4 linked regions of the Homo sapiens genome follow. The protein of the gene in region 1 purifies or fractionates together with the protein of each later gene. This does not show direct contact. Each region holds a gene or a part of one and is shown on either strand. Other genes may lie near its edges.

Region 1 (3,937 bases):
GATAGAGTCTCACTATGTTGCCCAGGCTGGTCTTGAACTCTTGTGCTCAAGAGACCCTCCTGCCTCAGCCTATCAAAGTATTGGAATTATGGGCATGAGCCACAACACATGGCCCCTTTCTCTGCTTCTTCATCTGCACTTCTTTAAATTTTATTTATTCATGGTGGCCACATGCCCCATCCTAGATGAGGAATCATGGCATCCTCATTCCTCTTGGCCATATGTGAATCCTCAAAGTCCTCAATCCCTTATCCATTATTCTAAAATCTAAAAGGCTCTAAAGATGAAAATGTTCTGTCCTAAATTTGAGGCTAACTCATTTGGCAGAAAAACTTGGCATGGCCTGGTGTGAGGCTCTTTATGGTCTTTTATTTATCCCACATTAATATTCATACATTTTGCATCAGGCTATTTATGCATTAGACTGCAGAGTGCTGCCCCCAACCTCCTTGGTGGTTTAACATAATATACAGAATTTGCACCTTCCATAATCTGAAACATTCTGAGTTCTGAAACATACCTGGGCCCCAGGTCTTGGATAAGGAATTGTGAAGCCCAGCTCTCTTTTTCAGCCATAGCTGATAGAAAGGGAGGTTGTGTGACCCAGAACCAAACAGTGGAATGTAAGGGGAAATCTTCTTGAGCTTCTAGAGAAAGATCTTGCTCTTAAAATAAAAAGGTAAAGCCCCTACAGAAAGTGGCCTTGCCCCACTCCTTCCTTCCTGCTCAGGGTCTGGGCTGAGGATGTGGCACCTTCTACCTTGTGACCATGAGGAGACAAGATCGAAAGATTAGCTGAGAATGGTGGGGGAAAAAGGGAAACTTTATGAGCCCCCAAAAGAACTCTGGAATCATAAACCATGCTTCTAGTTAAGTAAATACTGAACTTCCTTATTTTTAATCCAGGATTAATTAGTCTTTCTGTGACTTTCCTCCAAATGAGATTGGCCAGGGACAATAAAATGGTGTCTGAACAGGTGACAAGTAGGGCCCTCCCTCAGCCAACAGAGATAAGAAAGAGCATACACTTGGGTTTGGGATAGATGATGGGTGGATTAATTTGTTTGTTAACTGCAAAGTAACCTCTTCCTGATGAAGGATCAAACAAGAAGCCTATAATACCGGCAGACCACAGAAGGCCCAGGTGCTAGCCTTATCGGGTTGCCAAGAAGAAAGGAGAAGGAGAACAAAAAGGCAGGAGGACTCCCTTGGCAGAGATCCAGAGCAAAGGCAGCTGTTGCTTCTCATGAACACTCCAAAGTTTATCACAGTCACCTGTTACCCTAGCTGGCACAGGTCTTTGAAAGTGTGCTGGGAGTGTGTTTACATGTTTGTGTGTGCTTGTATGTTAAAGGTGCCCAGGTTAATACCAGGTGTATTAAAACGCCCTTGCCTGGCTAGTCCTTGTAGACCTTCTCTGAATGTTTTGGTGAATAAATCTGTTCTTCAGCAACCCTACCTGCTTCTCCAAACTGCCTAAAGAGATCCAGTACTGATGACGCTGTTCTTCCATCTTTACTCCCTGGAAACTAACCACGTTGTCTTCTTTCCTTCACCACCACCCAGGAGCTCAGAGATCTAAGCTGCTTTCCATCTTTTCTCCCAGCCCCAGGACACTGACTCTGTACAGGATGGGGCCGTCCTCTTGCCTCCTTCTCATCCTAATCCCCCTTCTCCAGCTGATCAACCCGGGGAGTACTCAGTGTTCCTTAGACTCCGTTATGGATAAGAAGATCAAGGATGTTCTCAACAGTCTAGGTAACTGACTGGGGTAGGGGAAGCGGGGGGTTGACCCTTGCTCATTTCTCCTGTTCTTAAACTCTAGCTTTGTCTCTATCCCATCCCAAGATCCCAACCAAGCCCAACCCCTGATGAGGGCTTTCTACACTACCCTACCCGTGTTTGAAGTCTTGGCTAAAAGCTGAGGTTTTCCTGATGAGGAGGAAGAGGTGGAGGAGAATGGTAGCTGTAATTTATGAACACTCATTATGAACCAGGTATAATCCAAGTTTTACGTAGATTATTTCATTTAATTCCCACAACCATTTTATGAGGTAAGGACAACTATTACTTCTGCTTTAAAAATGAGGAAACTAACCTTAAAAGCTGATGAGTAGGCTGATTCTGGACACAGTGTCACCTCCAAGGTAGAAGACAATTTGGAAGGGGATAAGGGGATTATGGGGAGGATAGCTCATGGGATGTACCCTTTCTTCTTTCCTACTCAGAGTACAGTCCCTCTCCTATAAGCAAGAAGCTCTCGTGTGCTAGTGTCAAAAGCCAAGGCAGACCGTCCTCCTGCCCTGCTGGTGAGTAACTCCCTGAGAGGGAATGGCGACTACGATGCCCTGTATCCTCCCCTGTCCATCTCCCTGCACCTACGTCTTCCCCCATGTCAGGTCTGTATCACCCTGGCACCCTGGGGCTGAGTCATGACTCTTGGTTCCCAGAGACCCCTTGCCCATTCTTGTTTCCCTGAAGGATGCTACTGGGGGATCTTGGGCTTCTGCCTCTTCCTTTCACCCCTTCACTTCATGCCCCTGTTTCTCAGCCCTTCCTCTCCTCCATTGTCCCATAATGATCACATACTTCATTTCTCTTTCCAATCTATTCCTCTGTTTTGATGGGTAGGGGCCAACAGAGAGGTGAATTTATCACAAATCGAAGAAAACTGAAACTCCCAAGTTCCAAGTCTCTCACTTGCATGAGTCTCTTTCATGGCAGCAAATATTTGTTTCTGTGATTTCTGTATTTCTTTTCTTGAAATGAGCTCGCAAAATTGAATGAGCTTGAGGCCCCACGAAACCTAGCTCTACCCCTGACTGCACAGGGTTGAAAGATGGTTGTGGGTAGCCCTTCCTCCTCTTAAATTCCAAGAGCTCTGATGTCTGTGCTTCATGTGCTCATGCAGGGATGGCTGTCACTGGCTGTGCTTGTGGCTATGGCTGTGGTTCGTGGGATGTTCAGCTGGAAACCACCTGCCACTGCCAGTGCAGTGTGGTGGACTGGACCACTGCCCGCTGCTGCCACCTGACCTGACAGGGAGGAGGCTGAGAACTCAGTTTTGTGACCATGACAGTAATGAAACCAGGGTCCCAACCAAGAAATCTAACTCAAACGTCCCACTTCATTTGTTCCATTCCTGATTCTTGGGTAATAAAGACAAACTTTGTACCTCTCTGTGCTTATGTCATCTCTGTTATTGTCCCCAGCTTGGGGCTCCCCTATCCAGAAAATGTTGTCAGTGTCCCAGTGGTGACATCTCAGTTTGGGAAGTGGGATGGGAAGTTAGGAAAGATATGGGAAGAATGGGAAAAACAAACTGACACTCCAAACCCCCACTTCCCTCATTTTTATTTATTTATTTATTTATTTTTTTCTTTTTTTTCATTTTTTTTTTTTTTATTATACTCTAAGTTTTAGGGTACATGTGCACATTGTGCAGGTTAGTTACATATGTATACATGTGCCATGCTGGTGCGCTGCACCCACTAACGTGTCATCTAGCATTAGGTATATCTCCCAATGCTATCCCTCCCCCATCCCCCGACCCCACCACAGTCCCCAGAGTGTGATATTCCCCTTCCTGTGTCCACGTGATCTCATTGTTCAATTCCCACCTATGAGTGAGAATATGCGGTGTTTGGTTTTTTGTTCTTGCGATAGTTTACTGAGAATGATGGTTTCCAATTTCATCCATGTCCCTACAAAGGACATGAACTCATCATTTTTTATGGCTGCATAGTATTCCATGGTGTATATGTGCCACATTTTCTTAATCCAGTCTATCATTGTTGGACATTTGGGTTGGTTCCAAGTCTTTGCTATTGTGAATAGTGCCGCAATAAACATACGTGTGCATGTGTCTTTATAGCAGCATGATTTATAGTCCTTTGGGTATATACCCAGTAATGGGATGGCTGGGTCAAATGGTATT
Region 2 (3,756 bases), on another chromosome or scaffold:
ATGGAGGAGCTGGATTTTACATTCTATTTCATTTTAATTTGTAGCAGCTACCTGTGGCTAGGGGCCGCTGTGCCGGACAGCACAGCTCTAGAGGCACCGGGAGGAAGAGACTGTGAGATAGGAATTATTTTTCTCATTTTGTCTAGGAGGAAACTAAACAACAGAGTGGTTACAACACTGGCCAGAAATCACAGAGCTAGCAGGAGGCAGAGCTGGGACTCCAGCTGAGATCCGAGCAAGGGTCTGAGCTCATCCATCACACCTGGGTGACTTCAGACTCTGTAGTCTCCCTGGGCTGAGGGAAAGTCAGATTCTGCCCTGCAGAGACGTGAGGACACAGGCTGCTCTGAATGGGTGCCCCTTCTGGGGAGTGGGCCTTCTCATGCTGCTTGTGGGGCCTGCTATAATGAGGTGCTCTGTCCAGGTTCAGACTCCTGCCACCCTCTCCACCCACTGCTGCGGGCCAGACCTCCGGAGTAGCAGCTTGGGGTGGTTCTTGTTCTCCAGGTTCTTATCGATGAGGTCAGAGAGCAGCTGCTTGAGGACATCAGTGGCATATTCCAGGCGGCCCTGCAGGCCGGTCATGATGAGCGAAGCCACGTTGCCCCGGTCGCGCATGGAGAAACTGCGCTGCAGCTCCAGGGTGCGGATGAAGGTCAGCAGGAACACCTTGTTGTTGATGAGCTGGGCAAAGAGCTTCAGGGCCTTCTCCACGTGCTGCTGCCCGTTTCCTTGTACCTGGGGTGGGGTGTGGTGGAGGCGACGCCCTCAGAGGACAGGCATCGGGCCTCCTACCTGAGGGTCTCACTGAGGGCCTGCTGGCGATGACACTAGCTGTAGGACCCTATGTTTGAGGCCTATAACCAACCCCACCCCATTCCACTCACCCGTGATGATGTAGGAACAGCTGGCTCTAAGGTCGACAGTCTGCTCTGACCTTGCACTGGGCCGGGGAGGCTGGGCTCCATGCGGAGCTCTCAGAGGGGAGGCTGCCTGATTTTCCCAAGGATAGAATAGGAGATGCCCCCTCAAACTTCTTCAGTTTACTAGTCTCCCCTTAATCTCCTCTGCCTGATTTATTATCTTTAGTAAAACAAACCAACAAATGAACAAACAAACCTCATAGAATCCTGTGTCTTTCTTTAAGCCATCTTAAATCCATTTTAGAATGAGGCAGGATCTTAGTTAATTAGTTCAGTCATTAATTAAAAAATGACAAACAATGAGCTTTACCCTGGAACCATCCCAAGGAGCCTGGGTGCCCCCTCAGCCGTAACCTTCCTGATAGCTCTGTTGCTGAGATGCTGTTACAAACTACTGACCCCTCTTCCCTGCTAACCTTACTCAGTACTGCTGAGTCTCATCTGGATTTCCTAGGATACCCTGGGCCTGCATCCCTGCTGGGTGGCTGGGCCCAGGAGGCAGGCATTACCTCCAGCTCCCGCAGGACGGGGTGGTCCTCGATGCCCGGGAACAGGACTCGCATAGCGTAGGTACGATAGTCCAGGTAAGGGATTCCTGAGCGGTCCAGGTCACTGGTCAACTCATTGATATCCGTCTGGAGCTCAGCAAAAGCTATGAGAATAAGCAGACGGAGAGGCTCGTGGGGAAGCCCCAGTCGGGGGAGGAGAAAGAGGGAGAAGAAGTTTGCAAAGGACGAGGGGAGGACCTTTTGTAGAGACTCTGAGGATTACGGGAGTGTGTCTCCAGAGGGCGGGGCTACTCCCAGCTGTTTTTAGGTGGTGGGGAAATGGGTGATTTTTATGTTATTTTCTCCTCTATACTTATCTATAATTTCAAATTTTCTCTTTACATATTACAAGTGTAGTTTCAACAAGGAAAAAAAAGTATCATGATTGGGCCGTTTAGTAAAGATCACGGAGATGCTGGAGGCAGGTGAGAGACCATGGCTGAGGGGGTCCAGCAAAGACCAGAACAGGCAAAGTGCTGCCCTTTTCTAATCAAGGTAATAAATCAAGATGCAAAAGCCTAGGGGAGGTCTGGTCATGAGACGCTCAGCTGAGAGCCGAGTTTGGGAAGGCAAGGGCTTCAGAAGCCTCACCTTGGTGGTGGCACACCTGTCTTCCTGGCTCCTTCCTCTGCCAAACTCACCAGCCCTGTTGCCAGGAGGAACCTTGGCTCCACATGTCCTATTTCCCAGCCCAGCTCTTCCCTGTCATCCAGCAGAGGGCTTGTTTCTGATCTTGACATTTGCAGCAAAAGGAGAAATGTTTTCATTCCTAATTGAGCTGTTTACCCAGAGAGCCTGCCAGGTCCTCAGCCTGAGAGGACGCCAGGTACACTCGTCACCTCGAGGCTGTGGTTGCGTGGGACATGGGAGAAAACACAATCTGCACTCCCACACACGTCCACAGCCAAGGACACCAGCAAGTGGCGGCCTTCAGAGCGCTCAGCCTGCAGCACTGATGGAAAACAAACCCTGGGGGAGATGAGGCAGGTGCTTGTCTGCCTTTGCTGCCGCTGCTCCCACGTGCTGCGAAGACAGTGTGCAGAAAAACAAGAGCTGGACACTCCCATGGGGGATCTAGAGTCTGGGGCTGTGGAGCCTGGGGACTCTGACTGTGGGGACATTGAGGCCCTGAGAGGGAGAAAGTGTTTGCCAGATTGTGGGATGGGTCAGGGCAAAGAAGGGACTAGAACAATGCAATTGGACCTGGGTCCTCATGCAGTGGGCATTCTTCATTGGACATCTCTGACCCTATAAGCAAAAGAAGTTCTGGGAAAACAGGGGTGAAAGTGGAATGCAGAGGCATGGCTGGCAGCGATGGGAGTAAAGATAGGAGTTGTCTGCAGGGAGAAGGGCAATAAGGCAGGTGGAGAAAGAGGGACCCAGCAAATGAGGGTGTGCTTCCACTAACCTTCCTTGCACTCCAAGGCCACACGGGACTCCAGATTGTCCATCTGCATTTGCAGCCGCTTGAGAGTGAGGTCATTTTCTCGAGACTTGCGCTTGTAGGCAATGAGGACGATGATGACGATGATGAGGAGGAGGCTGCCGCCGGCCGCGATGCTGACGATGGCTGGCAGGGTCAGCAAGCTGTCTGAGATGACACTCACCGAGCCAGGCGAGAACACCATCCCGCCCACGTGAACCTGTGCATTGTACACATACAGACGCACATGGATGCACACAGGTGTAGAGCCCGGGCATGCCAGCAGATCCTTACAGTGCGAGGAAGGACATGACAGACCACAACCACACAGTGCAGCTCTAGATAAAAAGCAATTTCCTGCCTCGGCATCTGCCTTTCTTTTCTTGTGTTCTCAGCTTATACCCAATTTGATGTAGGACCCAGAGATGAGGAGATATGGAGGGGGTGAGTCAGGCAACGAGACAGAAGAGAGCCTTTCCTTAGGACAGATCACACATGCACCACGAGGCGGGAAGGAGGCATTACAGACGCAGGGCTCACTCACCATGACCTTGTGCTGCCCGGTGAGGTTGGGAGGCTCGCAGAGAAGCTGGGTCTCAGATACGGTGACAGCACAAGGGGTCTCTCCGATGAGCACAGTGTAGTTGAGTTTGGCCCCTCCAGAGGCAGGAGGGCAGAGGTTTTTGCCCTGTAGAGAATAGCAGTCTTTATAGGCATAATTGACACATGCACGCACAAGTTAATTGCCTACTTAAAAAGAGATTAAGGAGACGGGGAAGGGCAGCAGTGCAAAAACCAGGAAATGACTCCTTGGCAAGTTTTTGTGGAGGGGACTTCTAACAGCCATGATCTAGAGAGAAAG
Region 3 (3,031 bases), on another chromosome or scaffold:
TCTTGGGTATTATGAGTAATGCTATGAACATGGGTGTACACATCTCTCTTGAAGTCCCTTCTTAGGTCCTTTAGGGATACATATCCAGGAGCAGAACTACTAGATCACATATGCTAAGGTCTGAATGTCCCCCCACCAAATTCGTATGTTGAAGCAACCACCAACGTGATAGGTGAGGCTTTAGGAGGTGATTATGTCATGAGAGCTCCATCCTCATTAATGGATTTAGTGCCTTTATAAAGGGGCTCAAGGGAACCAATTACCTCCTTTTTGCCCTTCGATTCCCTTCCACCATATGAGGACACAGCAACAGGCCCCGTCCTAGAAGCTGAGACTGGGCCCTCAATAGATGATACCAGTCTGCCAGCACGCTGATCGTGGGCTTCTCAGTCTTCACAACTATGAGAAATAAATTCGTACTTTTAAATTACCCAGTCTCAGGTATTCTGTTACGGTTAACACAAATGACTAAGACAACAGGATAATTCTGTTTAACTTTTTGAGAACTGCCAAACTTTTCCACCGCAGCTGCACCATTTGACATTCCTTCCAGCAATGCACAAATGTTCCAGTTTCTCCACATCCTTGCCAGCACTCATTTTCTGGGTTTTTTATAATAGCCCTCCAAATGGGTGTGACGTATTTTGATTCTATGTCCCTAATGACTAGTGATGTTGAGCATTTTCTAGCATTGATTTTTAAGATGTTACCCAAAGACCCCTTGTATCAAAATAAGCTGGATTTTTTTATTGAAAATTATTAACTCTAGAAATTTTAGTTTAAACTAGACTTAGGGATATGTGTATTTTACCGGTATTCCACGTTTTATGCATGGGTTTTTAAAACTTCTCAAGTATTAAAACTAAAAGCTTTAGGTGCTTTGCTTATCAAGAAATCCTACACTGTCCACTGGAGACATCCATGTTTTTACTTGGCTCTGCCCCTTTAGTGGTCCCTGTGAACCTTACCTCAAACCATGCATCTGGGGCAGAGATCCTTACTTGCTTGGTGGTTACAAATGCAAATACAGTGAAGAATGTCATCTTTGTGATTGTTCCTGAAATAGTTCACGAGAAATCCATGACCGTAAAGTACTGTGATAGTGATGTCTACCACTGTGAGCTTCCAGTACTAGGTGATTGGTCTGCATTCACAGTGACCAAAATCAGCTATGTGGCCAGGTAATTCACTGCTGAGGGCTTTGGATTTTCCTTTATGAACTACTGAAATGAGGTCAACTTGACTATTACTAAGGGACATTTTGCTACAAAGAATGTTAGTTTTGCCAATTCCCTTTCCAAATCTAAAATTTATTTTAACCAGGATTTTAGATGTAAACATCAAGTAGTTTTGGTTGTTTCAATGAAGTAACATGTTTAAGCTCACATTATTTGAAGTACTTCAGTTCCTATTGCCATGAAAATTGTATCCAGCAGCTAAAAAAAAAAAAAAAAAAAAAGACTACAGTTAGTCATTATCCAATTTGATGATTTATGGTCCAACACTAATGCTCATTTTTTTTGTTTGTTTTACAAACATTTGGTGGATACCACAATGAAAACTGCACTTAAAAAACAAAAATGCTGAAAGAGGAAGGAAATATCAAAAAGGTCTGAATAGACAACAGGCAAATATGGTGAGTGGTCATTGAGATGTTTTAAAAGTTACAGCAAAAGGACTTCTAAAACAATTTTAGGAAAAGCTTTGTCATGAAAATTCATTTCTTTGGAAATACTGTAGTTTGTACTTAATGACACTGTCAGCACATTTCTAGGCAATACAAACTCTTGAGGCTAAATCCTCATCCTGACATGACAGTGCAAGCCTGTCAAAATGTGACCCCAAAACCAGGTGTCCTTTTGCTCCATTATTTATATCTGTAAACCTGTTATTATTTTCAGAATTCAGAAAGGCCTAAGAAAATTACATCTATGATAATAAAGTGTATTTCTTTGTCAAGTTTCTAGAGCTATATAAGGATAGCGAAAATATTTGGTTCAGCAAGACACTGGGGTATCAAGTCAGGCATAATAAGCACTTTATAGCACATCTAGCCTTCCTCATTCCCTTACGCAGTGGACATCATACCCTTTTGTGGAGGAGGGACCAGGCAGAGAAGGTATTTAAATAAAAACTGGTAGATACAGAGTCAGAAGTCAACCCAGGCAGTTAGAATCTACAACCCACACTGTTTGCCACCAAATCTTAGTAGATGCTTGATAAGGAATTTTGTTTGGATGGTGCCATTTTTAGATAAACGTACGTTTCTTTTGGTAAATTCAGGTTAGGATCATAAGCAGTAAACTACCAAATACTCCTTTGTGCTTTGAACATGCACACTGGATGAGTGGGGAGGGGAATGACAAAGCTTCAAACTCCGGGTCTCTGTAACACTCTATCTGTACCTTTCATGTTTAACCTACACAAATACCACAGTCCTGCGTGGTAGTTCACACACACTATTCACCCTGTCGAGTTTCGACATTACTTTTATGTCCATTCTAATGCAGCAGTCACAGACTGACCCCCCAGGTATGTTGGATTTGATCCATTATTTTCTTAATTTGGATTACTTACCAATTCTTCTAATCAGGAGTGTGAATGAAATAGAATTCTACCATTAGTAGAATCACTGCAGATGTTTCTAAATATGAAGAGCTTTTGGGGGTTGGAGGCAGCACACTATTATTTTGGTGAGCTAAGCTATCTACAGCCACTTACATACGTTTGAAGTTTGCAGAAAGGTGGGTCTTAAAATCATACATATTACAATAAAAATTACTCACAAAGGAAAAACTGTTCCCCAAAAATTAACACACCAAACTGGCCCATGATTAAATAGGACAATTTCAAGTTTAAGGGTATAAAAGCAATAGAACAAAGTTAATAAGTATCTCCCATACCTACCCCATGTACAGCCTCCTGAAAGACACCAAAAATAAGAAATGGAGGAAGTCTTCGTTATAACAAGCAATTTCAGGACAAGAGTTATGCCTCATAAATCAAATGTGTAATGGACCAAGAAATATGG
Region 4 (3,756 bases), on another chromosome or scaffold:
GGCATGAGCCACTGAGCCTGGCATTTTAATGATTTTATTCTCCATGGAACTTCATAGACACTGACTATAAACAGCTCAGAACAGCCTTCAAGGACTTCCAGAAATCCATCAACAGGGCCCAAGCCACGAGTCTGTGCCTCTTCTTAGATGGCTTCTGTCCACATTTCTGAGGGTCTCGGGACCCCCAGTGGTGTGAAGTCAGGTTCATTATTTGCTCTGCCCCTGGGGAAGCGCCCCCCTTCTCTCTTTGCCTCTTGCTTTCGGTCTGATTTATGGCTTTAGAAGGTTGGCCTGGAGAGTCTTAATTTAAATCCTCTGTCAGAGGTTGTTACATGAACGTGGTGTCAGTAAAAAGCTGTTTTCCTTTGGTTTTGCTCCTCTATTGCCTCTTTCATGGCATGAAATACGAGGTAGGAAAATAAGGCTACCAAATTGGGGTTGGGGGAGCTATTGAAAAATTCTTGCATAATCCCCTTGAAGTTGCCATGGCACCTTCCCAGCCAGGGGCTGAAGTCAAAATGCTGGATCTTTAAAGCAGGTTTCCCAAGGCCCCTCTCCCTGCTCAGTTTCTGTCTCTTTCCTGTCTCTAGATGCTGTTCTGGTGGTAGTCACAGTTGGAGGCAAAACCCAAGTCTGATGTCTGTCAGCTGTTTTAAACTCCTCTTCCTCTAGCCAAGGAGACTCTGTTTAGCTTTTCTATATTTGCATTATGAAAACAGTAGTTTTTTTTCACTTCCCAAATTCAAAACAACATTTTCTATTTTAATAGTGAATATGCTATATGTGCCTGCCTCCTGGCCCTCAGATATTTTTATGCCCCTAAGGAAATATTTTTACCCTGCAATGAGAATCACCAGGCTATTGTTTTCGAGCATTTTCCTAGCAGTGAGACATAGCATTGTTTTTCTATCATCTGACTTATCTGTAAAACTGCATTGAGCTACTTTGTGTCTCTGTGTACTCCTATGGTTTGTTTAAACATGCGTGCTTTACCTATATGTGTGTCATTAACAGAGCCATTATTTCAAGGAAGTTGGCTTCTTTAAAGTGGAGTTGAGTGCTGTTGTTCAGTGCACAACATGGTTCTCCAGGTTGCTGATACCAAGTTCCTTGCTCTTAAGAAGGGTATTTTTGTAACAATCTGTAAACATTCAGTGGGTGCCCAAGACTACATTCCTGTCAATTTCTTCAAGAGAAGAGTTGTAGAATAGTGGTATGAAAAAAATATAGTAGGTAAATAAACAAGTAAATGAAAAATAAAGTAATAGTACAGGTTTATGATGTGATTCTTTTGTTATCAAAAAAGTAGATGTGTGCACGTGTATTTCCATGTATGTATGTACATAAAATCTAGGGAAGGTACAGTGTTTAACTTTGGCAGGATTATAGGTTTTTCCACTTTCTTTTTTAAAACTTCTTTATAATAAGAAACCCAACACTATTTATTTTTAATAATTAGAACAAAAACAAAACCAGAAAAAAAAAGACAAAGAGCAAAGCCAGGCAGGCTAAGTGGTTGATTGGGAAGAATTTTCAGGTAAGTGGCTGTGCAGATGTGAGATGCCCTGGAGCTGGCCATGCTGGACACAGGGCACCACGCTCTGTCTCAGCCGGGGACTGGCTCGGGGGAAACCAGGTTGGGCTGTTCAGACATGCTCATGTGTTACTGAGGCTGCTGAGTGCAGACACCATCCGGCTGGGCCTGTTTTCTCTCCAATTGGATGGAAGCAGCATTGTGTAATTCACTGAAATTCACTCGGCCTACTTTGTCCAGCAGCCTTGGAGGGTGGGGAGAAGCCAAGGCTGGACCTTGTTTCTGCTCCTCCTGGGTGCCGAGCATCACTCCACATGAGGCTGATGGCCACGGCTCCATCATGCTGTGTCTGGGCGTGGAAGGGTCTACATGCACAAGCATTCCTGCATCAGCCTGCAGCATAGCCAGGCTCCTGCACCCACCTCTCCTGCAGTCCACAGACAGAACATCAGCAGGAGCCACTCTGAAAACATTGAGATATTCCACCCTTGGGACAAGCTGCCACTCTGAGAAGGGGCATCCCTGGAGTCCCTGGCTGGCTTGTTGCTGCAGTTGAACCTATTTGGTGGGAATGCTAATGAATGCTGGCAGCAGAGATGGCCACAGGGAGGTTCTGAACCTCCAGGCCCCTCAGCATGCGCTGGCATGGGAGACAGCTCTCTGTGGTAATTCATCAATGGGGCAGCTCATCAGTTCCTGGGTCCAGGCCTGGTCCTTGCTACTTACTTTGGATGCTGGGCACAGAAGACAGGAGTGTTAAATCACAGGAGTGATAGTCACCACAGGCTGTGTCTTCTCTTGCAGAGAAAGTCTATTCGTGTGACCAGGAGAGGCAGAGTGCCCTGGAAGAGGCCCAGCAGAATCCCCGTGAGGGTATTGTCATCCCTGAATGTGCCCCTGGGGGACTCTATAAGCCAGTGCAATGCCACCAGTCCACTGGCTACTGCTGGTGTGTGCTGGTGGACACAGGGCGCCCGCTGCCTGGGACCTCCACACGGTAAGCCCCCCAGACTGGGTCCTGGGAAAAACGCACCTGCTGGCTGTTATCCATGCTGGCATCTCCCAGTGTTCCTGCCCTGGTCTGGTGGGAGATGAGTGCCTGGGAGAGCCATGTTTTCAATGAGTAGAAGAGTTTCAGGTAGAAAGACCCTGGGACCTGGATTCTGGTCACAGGCCTGTCTCTTTCTAACTTAAGACCTTGGAACAGTACTTAACCTCTCTGAACGTCAGTTTCCTGATGAGATTATTGCCCTTTCTAAGCCACTAGCTTCCATGGATCAAAAAAGATACTGCGTGCAGCTCAAGTATCATTGTTATTATGCTTGAGTGGTTGAAATGACATGCCTGAACATGTCTCAGTGGGAACATTGATGCTAAGATTGCCTTGTAGCTGCCGGGCAGCGCAAGAGATATCGTTCTGCCCACCCTCAGTGCTTTAGGCTTGGTGACAACATAGATCATTGCTGGGCAGTAGTGACTGAAGTAGGCTCAGTTGCCAGCCCCTCCCAACCCCCCCCATATCTCTCTTTTCCCAGCTACGTGATGCCCAGTTGTGAGAGCGACGCCAGGGCCAAGACTACAGAGGCGGATGACCCCTTCAAGGACAGGGAGCTACCAGGTGGGAGACGATGCTGCCCTGCCGGCGCCATCACCTCCTTCTGTTCCTCCACCCTCTCATTATGCAGAAGAAGCTGTCTCCTCTTTGTCTGTTTCCCCATGTGTAAGATGGAGCCAGGAGCCGTGGGATCTACATCCTGGTCTGGGATTTATCCCTAATTAGCTCTGCTCTTGTGCACATTGCTTCTCTTCCTTGTGCCTCTTCGTCTTTATAATGCAGTCATCGGGTTAAAATCCCGTCTGCAGTTCCACAATGCGTTGTCCATCTGAGGTCCATGAGGACAATGTTTTGAGCACTGTGAGTTATTTTTTCCAGAGCTGTGAGGATAAGATAGCTTATAGGGAGGGGCTGTCCTGAGCGATGTGGACAGTGTCTGTTGCTTGCTCTGAAGAGGCAGATGACCCCTGGTGACACAGGACGACCATGGAGTGTGACACAAGACACATAGGCAGGGCCCTGGTACCTCCAAATGGCTGATGTGCGGGTTTCCCCTTATTTATAGCAATCTCTGCCTGCAAGTTACAGTAACATTACTAAATATTGGTGGCTTGGAATCTTATTGTCTTTACACAGCACAAAGTCAGATTAGTGCTGGTGGGAAATG

The links. Proteins that work in one complex are often made in the same cells at the same time.
Region 2: the proteins of RETNLB (region 1) and PLXNA2 purify together in Homo sapiens (affinity purification with mass spectrometry; one large-scale study listed by BioGRID and IntAct). This does not show direct contact.
Region 3: the proteins of RETNLB (region 1) and LONP2 purify together in Homo sapiens (affinity purification with mass spectrometry; one large-scale study listed by BioGRID and IntAct). This does not show direct contact.
Region 4: the proteins of RETNLB (region 1) and SMOC1 purify together in Homo sapiens (affinity purification with mass spectrometry; one large-scale study listed by BioGRID and IntAct). This does not show direct contact.

The regions. Positions count from the first base shown.
Region 1 is NC_000003.12:108,754,880-108,758,816, reverse strand, and holds RETNLB (resistin-like beta isoform 1 precursor), read left to right. Parts: upstream 1-1,406; 5' UTR 1,407-1,631; coding exon 1,632-1,758; intron 1,759-2,228; coding exon 2,229-2,309; intron 2,310-2,911; coding exon 2,912-3,039; 3' UTR 3,040-3,179; downstream 3,180-3,937. UniProt on the Homo sapiens protein: Probable hormone.
Region 2 is NC_000001.11:208,041,629-208,045,384, forward strand, and holds part of PLXNA2 (plexin-A2 precursor), read right to left. Parts: intron 3,583-3,756; coding exon 3,439-3,582; intron 3,115-3,438; coding exon 2,880-3,114; intron 1,576-2,879; coding exon 1,433-1,575; intron 739-1,432; coding exon 470-738; intron 1-469. UniProt on the Homo sapiens protein: Coreceptor for SEMA3A and SEMA6A. Necessary for signaling by SEMA6A and class 3 semaphorins and subsequent remodeling of the cytoskeleton. Plays a role in axon guidance, invasive growth and cell migration.
Region 3 is NC_000016.10:48,355,075-48,358,105, forward strand, and holds the end of LONP2 (lon protease homolog 2, peroxisomal), read left to right. Parts: 3' UTR 1-1,590; coding exon of another isoform or gene 1,591-1,636; 3' UTR 1,637-2,275; downstream 2,276-3,031. UniProt on the Homo sapiens protein: ATP-dependent serine protease that mediates the selective degradation of misfolded and unassembled polypeptides in the peroxisomal matrix.
Region 4 is NC_000014.9:70,008,416-70,012,171, forward strand, and holds part of SMOC1 (SPARC-related modular calcium-binding protein 1 isoform 1 precursor), read left to right. Parts: intron 1-2,338; coding exon 2,339-2,531; intron 2,532-3,069; coding exon 3,070-3,152; intron 3,153-3,756. UniProt on the Homo sapiens protein: Plays essential roles in both eye and limb development. Probable regulator of osteoblast differentiation.